Regions from separate parts of the Homo sapiens genome. Here regions 2 and 3 are each linked to region 1. Evidence: fine-mapped expression QTL. A gene starts in region 1. Each other region holds a variant in brackets. All regions are shown on one strand. Distances are between the middles of the regions. Region 1 holds the start of EXPH5 (exophilin 5). Region 2 overlaps EXPH5 (exophilin 5). Region 3 overlaps EXPH5 (exophilin 5).

Evidence for each region. PIP is the estimated chance that this variant, and not a neighbour inherited with it, causes the effect. A credible set is the group of variants that fine-mapping cannot tell apart.
Region 2: its variant is the best candidate, but not a certain one, in a credible set for the expression of EXPH5 in lung (TOPMed, PIP 0.72).
Region 3: its variant is the best candidate, but not a certain one, in a credible set for the expression of EXPH5 in aorta (GTEx, PIP 0.55).

What each region holds. Positions count from the first base shown.
Region 1 is chr11:108,591,205-108,595,445 of GRCh38, forward strand. EXPH5 (exophilin 5) reads right to left here and starts at 2,564. Exons shown (of 6, transcript NM_015065.3): 1 at 2,214-2,564. The coding sequence starts at 2,332. RefSeq lists silencers at 2,041-2,100, 2,381-2,430, 2,451-2,750.
Region 2 is chr11:108,508,391-108,512,631 of GRCh38, forward strand. It overlaps EXPH5 (exophilin 5), which reads right to left. Exons shown (of 6, transcript NM_015065.3): 6 at 1-4,241. The coding sequence ends at 1,147. The region is part of intron 1 of LOC112267909 (a long non-coding RNA gene); the gene reads left to right. Among named protein-coding and RNA genes, the nearest start is that of POGLUT3, 12 kb to the left of the region's middle. The variant T/C (reference allele first, on the strand shown) is at 2,527.
Region 3 is chr11:108,561,198-108,565,438 of GRCh38, forward strand. All of the region lies in intron 1 of EXPH5 (exophilin 5), which reads right to left. Among named protein-coding and RNA genes, the nearest start is that of EXPH5, 30 kb to the right of the region's middle. RefSeq lists an enhancer at 1,967-2,076. The variant G/GT (reference allele first, on the strand shown) is at 1,864.

The sequences.
Region 1 (4,241 bases):
AGAATGAAATTATACTCTTGAGTTATAAGTCATGTGTCCTGATTTTTGATTTGGAAAATATGATCACACATATCAAGAAAATGAGCAGAAGAGGCAGCCAAGTTGCCATGTTGTCTCAGGCCCTTTCTGCATGCCAATATCTGATACTGAAATTAATACATGTGAGCCTGAAGTGGGTAAGCAGAACAATCCCATGGAGCCTGCAAGCCAGACATGGGTATTTGATAGTGGAAGTGGGGAATTAATCAAAGGAAAAGACAGTACTAGAAATCATTGCCTTGGGTATTTGGTCCACACATCTACTTTCCTTAAATGATTTTTGTATTTTAATGGTGATATTTTTCAAATTGTTTGGGCAATTAAATACTTTTAATAATTAGTATAATACAGTATCGATTTTGTCTTAGCATTATGGCTTTTTCTGTTGATGCTTCCATTAGAATATGAGTGCCATGAAATTAGAAAATGTGTTTTGACCTTCCTTCTAATGCCCAGCCCAATGGCTTTGTGTAGATACACGTGCTTTGTGTAGATCTATGTGGAGATCCAGTTCCCTCTAAAGTCAACTGCAGTGGGCATCGTGAGTTGCAATAGAGAAAACACAATAAGGCAAGCAAGCATCAGGTCAAAAATAAAAAGTCAAGATAACATCTTAAATGAAAGCTTCTCTCCTTGTTATTTTCTAACTCTCCCCTCAATTTCCCCAAATATACAATGGATCACTTAAGAAGCCCCATCCTCTTCAGAGACAAGAAACATTTCCAATAACACACACTGAGAATAACCGCAGTTTCTTAGTGCCTTTGGAATATGCACTGAAATTCCGTGCAGTTCTGAAATTCTTCTTCTGAAAGTTGGGTGTGCCTTGTGCGGTGCATGTGCATATGTGTAGGTACATTATGCACGTGGGTGTGTGTGGGTGTGGCATACTGTTCTCCTGAAGGCACACTTTCTACACTGTTCAGGGGAGGGGAATGATAAAGCCACTTTTTCTCAAGGCAGATGGTATGAAATCCATATTCCCCAACCTCAAATATTCCTTCATCCCTCAAAGAGTCATGTTTAGGGGAGAAGGGTGAAGTCAGGGCATTGGGCTTAGTGTATTCTAATTCTTTCTACAAAGACCAACTAGATTTTCCAATTTGAAGAGGGTCCCTGGAGGGTTTCTTTTGTCGGCGGTGGGGGACAGGCAATTCTAGAAAGAATTGGGAACCTGGAACTCGCATTAGCAAGCAGTTGATCATAAAACAAAATGACTTGCTAAATTCCAATCAATGGCACACAGTGTGGTCTGAGAGTGATGTCCTGAATTCCCTTCCACAGTTATCTAGAGAAGGACTTAGATGGATATATTCCAATATTGGCGAGAGAGTCCCTTTAATTCATTCCAGCACTTATCCCACACTTCCCCAGCAGAAAAACTGGTTAATGTACATCCTGGGTAATTATCTGTGTCTCTGGATTTCATTCTTTAGTAACTAATCCCTCACCTACAACAGTGTATAGTAAGGTCAAGGATGAAATTTCTCAGAAACTCGCTCCCCACAGCACCACGCACAAGAAGACCCACCCATTCCAGCCAACCCCGTGTGTCCAAGTCCCATTCGCCCACATAAGCCTCTATTTGACAAATTCCTCGAGCTCCTACCCTTGGGGTGGGGACCTTTCGCCTCCCGTGAGGTGCCGGCTCTCCCGTGCTTCGCTGACTGCCCGCATTGGGTGGGGAGATTCGCCTCTGGTGCCGAGGGAAAACTGCGTTAGGCGAGGGTGGAAGCTCTGTCGGACCCGTGCGAGCACGTGGGTGCGCGCGGGCCGCGGAGTGAGCAGCAGCCAGGATTCCTCTCCAGATCGCGCCCCCGCCGCATTTCATTGCCTGAAACGGCCCACGCCCCGCGATGGCCCAGCAGACACCCGGCACAGCACAGCGTCACTGCGCGGCCCCCGCAGCGCACGGACCCCCCCACCCTGCCCGACCCCAGACCCGCAGCCGAGCCCGTCTGGTATGTGGTGGGTGGAGAGGGTACCAACTAAGCATCCCAAAGTCCTTCAGGGAGCAACTCCGCGCAGTTTTCTCTTCCCGACCCGCAGCCTCCGCAGCAGCCGCTCGGAGCACCCCCGGGCAGGTGCCCCGCGCGAGCTCAGCGCCTTCCCCGCGGATCCCCGGCCCCTGCGGGACCCAGGCCCAGGACAAAAGAAATGAATTTGCTCTGTACCTGATCCTGTCCTTCTCGGCCCTCTGTAACTCCTCATTCCTTTCCAGCACCTGAAGGATCTTCCTGGCCTCTTCGTCATTTAAGAAACTGAAATCAAACGCCGGAGGAACTTTCGTCATTTTCTTTACTGTGTGTGAGTTACACTTAAGCTCCTTGGCGCCTCCTGTTAGGAAGGCATTTTTCAACCTGTACAAGACCAGTTTCACGAACTTGATCCCACAGCCAATAATAAGTCCGCCCCTTTGAAAGTCTAAAACCACAAACCTAGGGAACGCCCACACCTGAAGGGCTCATATTGACAATACCTTAATGACATGTTTCTCTCAACCTGTCCAACCGAGATGCAAAGTGAACGGCTAAAGGGAGAGAGGGAACCAATCCCGTTCCAAGGGGGCGGGCCCTCCCTTGTCCCCTCCCTCGTCCCCTCCCTCGTCTCGTCCCGTCCCTCGTCCCCTCCCTCGTCCCCTCCGGTCACCCTCCCCGCCCCCTATCTGAGTTGTTAAGCAAACAAGCCTACATAATTCTGCCTCTTAAGTGAGGCAAGGCTAAGTGTTGGCGCCAAAGTATTTGCTTTTGCTGTTGCTGTTTGCTCGCAGAACTTGAGCTTGATTAGTAAAGGAGTGAAAAAGGAGATTCATGACTAATCCTCCCTTTCAATAATTAAGAGCCCATAGAAAATAGAATTGCAAGTAGGGTTTGTAACTGGCAAAAGGGTTACTTATCTGAAAGACCAGGAAGAACTAAACTCAATTACACTACTGACTGTGGATGAACCTGGCTGAAGGGCGGAAATTAGTGTATCCTTGGAAACGAATTATTTGCCAAGCCTCTCATCCCACAGACACCCCCACCTCCACTGTCCCACAAAAGTCATTCTTAGACTTTAGAAACAAACAAACAAACAAACAAAACCGTTTATGGTATTTTAGGAGAAGACAGCCCAGAAGCAAAGGACTGTAGAAAACACCTGTTAGAAGTTTTCTGTAAGATTTTATTATCATCTTAATAAACTCAGAGAAGTAATACACATGCCATTTAAAAATACCTAATCCTCTGGTGAAAGCAAATGGTAATCCTATGAAGCCACAGAAATAGCTTTCCTAGAAAGTCAATTGTTCCACAATGCAATGAAGAATAATAGAAACTTATAAAGATATTCACATATATACTTTTTTTTTAATTATCAAGGCTTTTACAGAAAACATGTTTTTATCTTGGCTTCACTTCCTACCCAAAAATAACTCTGTCAGATTGACTTTCCTGCCCCATAGCCTTAATTTGGTCATTTTGAAGATGGTGGTGATGATTACTAACATATAAAATGTACTTCTACATATATCATTTCTTTTCATGGCACATAAACCCAATTAAAATTTTGTATCTGTACAAGAACATGATATCAAAAATTGCCACTTGTGTTTTGTTCTCTGGGCTACCCCATTTGATCATCATTATTTAAAACATGCCTAGGCAGCTAGCCATTCAGATAACTTTCTGTGGGTGTCTGTTATTTGTGTGAACCAGGAACCAATTTTGTTCACCCATGGTGTACACAATACAGAACTCCTTTATAAATAGTGTCTGTATTAATGATCCTGTTTTGGGAGTATGTCTTGTATATGGTGTCCAGTTTTTCTAGTGTGTTCATTTATTCAGCATACACATGGGACTTTTCAATATGGTCACTGGTGGGATTTTACACTGTTTCCAGTATATCAGTGAACTGATTTCAACCAACGTATCCTGGTGCCTATTACATGAAGGCATCACACACTGTGAACAACACAGTCCTTGTCTTTAGAAAGTTTGTAATCCAGTGGGAGAGATACACAAATAGAAAGATGACTATGTAAAAAAGAACATAATAGAGGAATAAAGAAAATTCCATGAGCACACAGAAAAGTTAGTGCCAACTGAGTGGATGGAGAGAGGATACGGTATTTAGGTTGCTGCATGAAGAGTCAGATTTCAAGAGGAAGAAATAGGGGGTGGTGGGAGGAGATGTGTGAGTCTATTCTAGGCAAGGGG
Region 2 (4,241 bases), 83 kb before region 1:
CAGCTACTCTGGAGGCTGAGGCAGGAGAATCGCTTGAACCCGGGAGGCGGAGGTTGCAGTGAGCCCAGATCATGCCACTGCACTCCAGCCTGGGTGACAGAGCAAAACTCCGTCTCCAAAAAACAAAAACAAAACAAAACCAAACAAAAAACAAAAACAAAAAAAAGAAAATGTGAAAATGGATAGTTCTGAGGAAATGGGAAAAGCCAGTTGCTGAGAGAACTGCAGTAAAGGTAAGTCGGTCCCATGAAGGGATACCTACTTCCTACCTCTGCTCCTCAGCTATGTTCTCTTCATAAGCAGAAATTCTGTGACCAGGCAACTTTCTGTATGGTCAGGTTGCCTGGCCTAAGTCCTTGGCTTGACTAAAAGCCCTTAATAATCCAGCCAGTCCCCCACGGTTTCAGAGGAATTTCTAGGACTGCTAACCTTCTATTGGCTTACTAGGGATTCAGGTCCTAATCTATAACCTCAACATGTGCTTTGACCATGTGCCTCCCAGGCTCCACTACGGATATAACAGGAAGTACTTACAAAATTCCTTTATCTTTTTTTTTTCCTTTTTGCAATCAGTTTCTCAGGTTAAAAAATAAATTCCTTTATCTTTGTTTGAAAGAGAAGATCACCACCTTAAACTTCCTAAATGTTCATGAGTCAAACAGGATGATAATATTTACCCCACTGTTATCATCCCTACCTTTTATTTAATGTCATGAGTATAGGGTGTGGACCGGAAGAAGCAATACAGAGTTTCACAGTTGTGCTGGGTAATTCATAAGTTTTGTATGTGCCTGGGATATTAGGGTTGTAAATCACAATTAAAGATGAAAAATGTTAGGAGGGAAGTAAAGCAGAAAGCCCAAATCAGACAGTGAATCAGGGATTAAGTGGGAGTGGTGGAAAGGCAGGCTAAGAACATTTACAGAGATAGAAAATAGCAGAGACTCTCTCAAAACAAGAATTCATTGTTCTAGCATTCAGGAAGTGTCTATATAGGGTGTGGAGGAAAAAAAAGGAGATGTGGGACATTTCAGAGCAGACACTGCCCAGACTAGATCTTTTATCCTTCCATGCACATGCACATGTACACCTTAGTTCCATTATAAGCTTTTGGTGAAAAAAGTAAAGCATTTTATTGAAAAAGCCTCACAGTTCTGACTCTTTGTCATTTTCATCCAGGTAGTATTCATCATCTGTGGTTGTGTCTGTGTCACAATCTGAGTCCACTGGGTCATCCTCATAGATATTAAGCGGTTCACTTGGAGATAAGCCATCTTCTGGCACCTGACTACTGGGAGAATTTGAGCTTAATGACTCTGAGGGGTTGGGAGGGTTCCTCAAATCATCTTTTAGGAAGCCAGGGTTCTTAAGAAAACTTGGTTTCCATAATCTTCCTTGTGTAAGTGACCTCTTTACATTTTCTAAGAAAGCTAACTGTTGTTCTTTCCCAAAGATCCCATAGTCGATAGGTCTGTATATAGATATTGCAGACCTGGGACCTGTTTTTGTCCCGCTGCGATAAGCCCAACTTTCATTTCCATCACAGGAGGGGAGTTCAGAAAAAGATCTGAATCTTCGACTGTACCCATTGTTGACAGAGAATTCATTCCCAAGGGTCAGTCGACTCAGGGCATTGTCAATAGAAGTGCTTTCAGAAAAATGGCGCTCCCTGACTTTTGGAGGATGGCTTTTTCGTAGTAGATCGCCATGAACATTAATGCTTTTTAAACTCTTTGAACGATAGAGGTGTGGCTCAGGTTCCCACTCCAGAGATGAAGCACTCCTTTGTTGCTGCAGAAAACTGGCCAGTGGACTGCTTACTCTAGATTTCTGTGCAGGCTCCAGTGGAAAAGGAGGGCTCAGCCTCCTCTGATTGTCAGAGAATTCTGCTTCCCTGAGGCTGGTGAATGTGATGGGTGATGGGGCTCCTGATTCTCTTACTAAATTCTGAGCTGCTGTGACGTCTTTAGAATTCTCATGCTTTGATGGTGATTCTGAGACGTTTTTAAACTCATTCTGATGTCGTTGTGAAATGCTGTTAGACTTCTGGTTGCTGACGTGTGTAGAAGGTTCTCTGTTGGGTAGTACAGTAATGGGGAGAAGGTTCTCGGATTTCTTCACATGCTTTCCGTTCTCACTCAACCTGCTTTCGCCAATGGACTCTGCAGATTTTGGAGTAGGCTCAGGGAACAGTGGGTTGCACTCCACTGTGCCAAGAGATAAATGGTCAAAGCCAGATCTGCTTCCACTTTGGGGGAAGATAGTAGCTACATGTCTTCTGGGGCTTACATCTTTAGCTGGGAATTTTCTGCTGGCTTTAGACATGGCTGCCAATCTGTGTTTAACTGAAGATCTATTTTCCCCCTTTACTAGGTCATCCAAGTTGGTTTTATTTTTGTTTCCTTCAGGAAGTGAAGGTTGATCCCAAGCTGACTTCTGCATTTCATCTTCAGCCTTCCTGCTCTCTGTCATATTTGCCTCCTGACTTCTTTGAGGTAATTCTCTTGGTTCAGACTGCAGACTCTC[T/C]AAGTTTGGTTCATCTGACTGAGTCTCCTCACCAAGCTGTAGTTTATGCAATGCTGGAGTAAGGGCAAAGACTTGACTCTCTGAGTGAGAAAGTGTTTTATTAGTCATTTTTTGGCAGTTGGTTCCAATGTCCCCTCTGCCTTCCCTAGGCTGTGATCCACTGGAGCCATCACCTACAGCTGTGGATGTGTGATCTTTCTGGGGACACTTGCCACTTCCAGTAAATGGAATGGCTCTACCACTCCCTGTACACTCCCAAGAACTTCTTCTAGTTTGGGAATTTCCAATATTAACTTCTGAAAGAGCTGGAAGACTAGAGGGACCACTGTTACTTGAATTAATGGATTGTTGACAATTTTCAGATTTTTCTTCGGATACATTTTTTCTCTGAAGCATCAATGAAGTATGCAGGGTTTCACTTTGCAACTTTTTGCCTCTTTCCTTCTTGTTTTCTGAATCACCTAGAGGTGTTTTAGCTAAATTATCTGAAAAAATCTCTCTAGCTTTAGATTCCTCTTCAGGAAGAGAAACAGCTGCCTCAACAGAAGCCATTTCCTGTAATGTAGGAGCTAGGGGCCCCCTATTTGATAATCGGAAGGCAGTCATATTTTCAGTGGTGAGCGTCTGATCAGAGTTGACGGACATCTTTAGATTTTCACATGAAGGTGTTCCTGACTGCTCTCGTGTAGAATAATTCTGTTTGTCTTTTTCTAAAGCGTTAGGAAATGTTTCAGTCTCCACTTGAGGTGATTCTATAAGTAAATTAGTATTTTGTGTATACTGTTGAAGGAGGTTACAGAATTTTTTGCTGGGTTTCCTCGGTAGAGTGTAATATATTGAGACCACCTCCAGACATTTTACATTATCTTCATCACCAGAAACAGAAAACGTACTAGTCGTCTTAACTTTATGTAATGTTTTCCCACGTTCTTTTCCTGACAAGTCTGAGCAAAAAGGTAAAGGGTCTTCATTTGAAAGAGCAAATACACTTCTCCTGGAGGCAGCCATTTTACCCTCTTTCTCAGTGTATTCTTGGAAGTTTTCCTTTTGGTGTTGTCTTTTGGTTAAAGAACAATCTCTAACAGATGAGTCACTTTCCACAGGGCTAATGATTCTCTCCCAAGCCCTTGGTGTTAGCTCAGAAGCATCCATGCCTGAGGTCAATGGCTTTTTTCTTCCTTCTCTTCCAGTTGAGGCATGTGGCTCCCCTGAGGGACATGACATAGCCCTGTTGATGAGGAATGGAAGTGGTCCTTTTCTAACGGAAGTAGATCCACTGCTTTTTACATTTGTCATTCTCTCTGTGGCTTCAGGTGCTTCCAGGGCTGAGTCTGAAAGGACTTTGGAACATTCATTCGCTGACTCAGGAGAACTGGGACTAAATTTGTTTAACATATAGTTCCCCATTGCATCTTCCACATTATTTTTGATTTGGAAGGGAGGTGGCCCATTCCTCAATGAAGCAGCCATTATTTTACTTCCTGACTGCCTGCCATGTATGAGAAAACTGCTTGATTTTCTTGGCAAGGTACAATAAATTGTGTCAAGTTCAGAAACTTTGGAATTGCTTTGATTTGCTTCAATGAGGCTCCTGTGATCACTGGTGGGTACTGATATACTTTCTGTTTTGCTTAACTTTTCAATACAGGATATATGATGCCTTATTTTTCCTTTTCCTCTTTCATTCCTAAAAGGAGAGTGTGAATGGCATTTGA
Region 3 (4,241 bases), 30 kb before region 1:
GGAAAGAACTGTTTATTTGGTATATGTTTATGGTTGTAGCCTATTATTTATTAATAATGATCTTAGATTTTAAAAGACATCAACTATTTAGCTTTGATTCCCTTTGACATTATTGGCATAGAAAAAGAAATCTGGATATCTGATTCCCTCCATCTTGTTTTGTTTTGTTTTGTTTTGTTTTAAATCATTCTGGCATCTCTATTCTCTTTGCCAACACCCAAAAATAGCACTCGATCAAGCCACAGAAGTAATGAATTAAGCATGGTGGTAGATCTGTCTGAAAGATGTGGACCACTTTTCTAGCAAACAGGTATCCCATGAAGTGTTGGGAGTCTGTCCTACTCATAGTAAAGTGGTCATGGGTAGTTCCTGTGCTTTGCCTCGTGGGATCCAACATTTTTTGCATTCCTACCCTAATCACCCAAAAGCTAAACATGAGCAAGAATGCTGCCCAGTGAATTCTATTTGTTCTATTTTGGAGAGTGATTAACAACTTAATAACGTCTTTCCTCTTGGCATGTCTTAAAATCATAATGCCAAGTAAGACAAACTAAAGTGACATGGCTAAGAGACACATAGCGAGAAGGTATTGAGCAGTACCATGAAGAGAAGCCATCAGGCACCAGAGTCTTGAACAGGAGGAAGCTATGGGGCAGAGAGGAAACTTGCAAGAAGAAAATCAGCCCTGGCAATGGAAGTGAGTAGGGAGAAGCAGAACAGAGAAGCTGGACCACAAGCCTGTGGTTACTAGCCTGGTTGATTGATTGGCACCAGAATGCTGCAGTATTCTGATCAACATTCCGGTTCCTGAGGACTGGCCGTGCAGGGTTGAGGCCGTTTCCTGTGTTTCCTTACTTCTCCATTAGATCCTGACAATAAAGTGCCACCCATCCCTTGAGGAAACTGCTCTATGTTCCTTGTCACCTGAAAGAACATAATGAAAACATCCAGCCATAAGCAGCATGTAGGAATTTGTTCACAGAGGAATTCTCCAGCATTGATTGGGACAGGAAATTTCAAATGTCAATAAAACTGACTTTGCTTTGCCATTATACAATTTTTTCTGTGTTTTTTTTTTTTTTTTTTTGTAATTGTGAAAGTAAAATTACATCAGGCCGGGCTGGGTGGCTCACGCCTATAATCGCAGCACTTTGGGAGGTCGAGGTGGTGGATCACTTGAGGTCAGGAGTTTGAGACCAGCCTAGCCAACATGGAGAAACCCGTTCTCTACTAAACAACAACAAAAAAAAAGAATACAAAAATTAGCTGGGTATGCTGGTGCATACCTGTAGTCCCAGCTACTAGAGAGGCTGAGGTGGAAGAATTGCTTGAATCTGGGAGGGAGAGGTTGCAGTGAGCTGAGATCGCACCACTGCACTCCAGACTTGGCAGCAGAGCAAGACGCTGTTTCAAAAAAAGAAAGAAAGAAAGTAAAATTACATTCAATGCAAAAGACTTGGAAATTAAAGAAAAAACTTGAAGGGGCCGGGCATGGTGGCTCACACCTGTAATCCCAACACTTTGGGAGGCCGAGGCAGGAGGATCAAGTGAGCCCAGGAGTTCAAGGCCAGCCTGGGCAACATGGTGAGATCCTGTCTCCATTTAAAACAAACAAACAAACAAAAACTTGAATAAAAGAAATCACTCATAACTCCCACTGTCAGAGATACTGCTGTGTGTGTACATATGTTCATTCATGTGTTTTAAAGCAGTAGTCACAGGACTAGGACTCTGACTCAGTTTTAGCTAAAGCATGAAAGCAAGAGATTCAAGACATCTAAGGGAGTTGTGAGAAGACCAATCAGGAGAACTTGCTTTGTGGGATTTTTAAAAACAAACAAAAGCCAAATCTCTCTAGTTAGG[G/GT]TTTAAGTCCCCTTACATGCATTGACTTGGAAGAGTGAAGACAGAGGGAGGATCTGTGAGGAGGCTTTCTCTAGAGCCAGGGAGCTTAACTGGTACGACTGGAAGAGCTTAATTTTGTCCCTTGTGGTTTGGAGGAAAGGTAGACTGGTATCTGCCTCCTGCCTGAGAAATTTGAGCTGGAGAAACTGGGGCCTGCCAGTTGCTTTGACTGCAGAATGAAGTGCATAGCTCAGCTGTCAATCAGCCCTCATTTCCAGGGTTTCTCAAGCAACCACAGTATGACTGTGTCCCGTGGAGAAGATGTGGGCCCCAGGAGAGGCTGAGGAGGCATGGGGTTCTCTTAGTTCATGCCTGCTAGAGTCAGCTCCAGGGGTGAATAAACCTGAGTAGAAAGAGGTTGTGGGTGAACCCCTGGATTCCTAGCACAGAGCAGGGGAGAGCACATTATCTGCATGGAAAGAGCTGCTGGGGAACAGTGCCGGGCCACGGGCCATCTCAGCAAACCCCAGACGAGCACACAAGAGAAGAGGCAGATTTAAACATCTGCCCTACCCAGAGAGAGTGATGCCACCTCACAACCATTCTAGTCAAGCAACAGCTTTTCTGCATGTGCCTTCCATCCAAACTTAAACCTGCCTCCCAGCCACCGTCCGGTTCAACCCTGGAACAGTAAAAAACCACCACTGAAGGGGTGGAGAGGCAGAGGTTGATGGGGAAAGGGAAAAGGATCAAATCCTCTTCACTGTCCTAGGCGTCGCTCTGCAGCAAGCGGTGGCTGTGTGAGGGGCTGCTCCTCTGAATAAAGCTGGGATTAATCTAGGACCGTATGTTCTAATTATCTCTGAATTGAGACTGTGTTTGTGTCTTAAAGTGACCAGAAAAGTCAAGGGACTGCCTTTGTTTGTATCCAGTGGCATTTAAAGGGATAGTAGGAGACGGCTGCACACGGTGGCTCATGCCTGTAATCCTAGAACTTTGGGAGGCTGAGGCGGACGGATCACTTGAGGTCAGGAGTTCGAGGTCAGCCTGGCCAACATGGTGAAACCCTGTCTCTACTAAAAATACAAAAAAAAATAAATTAGCTGGGCATGGTGGTGGGCATCTGTAACCCCAGTTATTCAGGAGGCTGAGGCAGGAGAATCGCTTGAACCCAGGAGGCAGAGGTTGCAGTGAGCTGAGATCGCACCACTACACTCCAGCCTGGGTGACAGAACAAGACGGTCTAAAAAAATAAAAAAGAAATAAAAGGATAGTAAGAGACAAAACTAAAGATGTTTTCTTGTTATATTCCATGATTCCTACTTGCTCCACATGTCAGTTATGTATGCCTGCATTTTCAAAAAATGCTCTTACCCTATGCATGCTTTGTGTAGTCTATGTTTCCCACTTAGCATTACATTAAGAATGCTATGCTATGTCAGTATTCCACCACTGCATCTCTGTACTGTAACATATGATCCTACTCCCCTCTCGTTGGAGTTATTTCTAATTTTTTAGAGTCATAATGTTGAAATAAACCCAGTTCAAAACTAGCATTGTGCCCATCTCTGATTAATTCCTTAGAATCAATTTCCTTGATGTGGAATTGCCAGGCCAAAGGATGAACATGTTTTAATGACTTATGAACTATATCACACCAAATTACCCTGGAAAAAGGTTGTATCAAATTTTCCCTTGTATGACGGTCCATTTCCCCATGTGCTTGCCAATGTTAGTTATGTCTATTCTTTTTGATCTTTGCTAATATGATAAGCCAAAAAAAGTTTTCTTTTTTTTTCTTTGTATTTCTTTGATTACTAGAGAGGTTGAACATTATTTATTATGTTTATTGGATATGTGTAGCTTTTTTTTTTTTTTTTTTAAGATGGAGTCTCACTCTGTCTCACTCAGGCTGGAGTGCAGTGGTGAGATCTCAGCTCACTGCAACCTCCGCCTCCCGGGTTGAAGCTATTCTCCTGCCTCGGCCTCCCGAGTAGCTGGGATCACAGGCACCCACCACCACGCCTGGCTAATTTTTGTATTTTTAGTAGAGATGGGGTTTCATCATGTTGGCCAGGCTGGTGTCAAACTCCTGACCTCAGGTGATCCGCCCACCTCCACCTCCCAAAGTGCCGGGATTACAAGCATGAGCCACCATGCCTGGCCTGTAGTTTTTGATAACTTATCTGCTCAATACCTTTGCTGATTATTTTAGCCCAGGTACCATTTAAAATATTGGTTCTATGAAATCCAAGGTAAAGAGCCAAGCAAATGGCAAAATTGGCAACTCTTGGCATTTGCTTCAGAGTGTAATTCACAGGCTAGTCTATTTCACACTAACTGGGGACTCAGATTGGCCACTACAGCACACCACAGATCAGTGCTGAATGTTGTCTTCA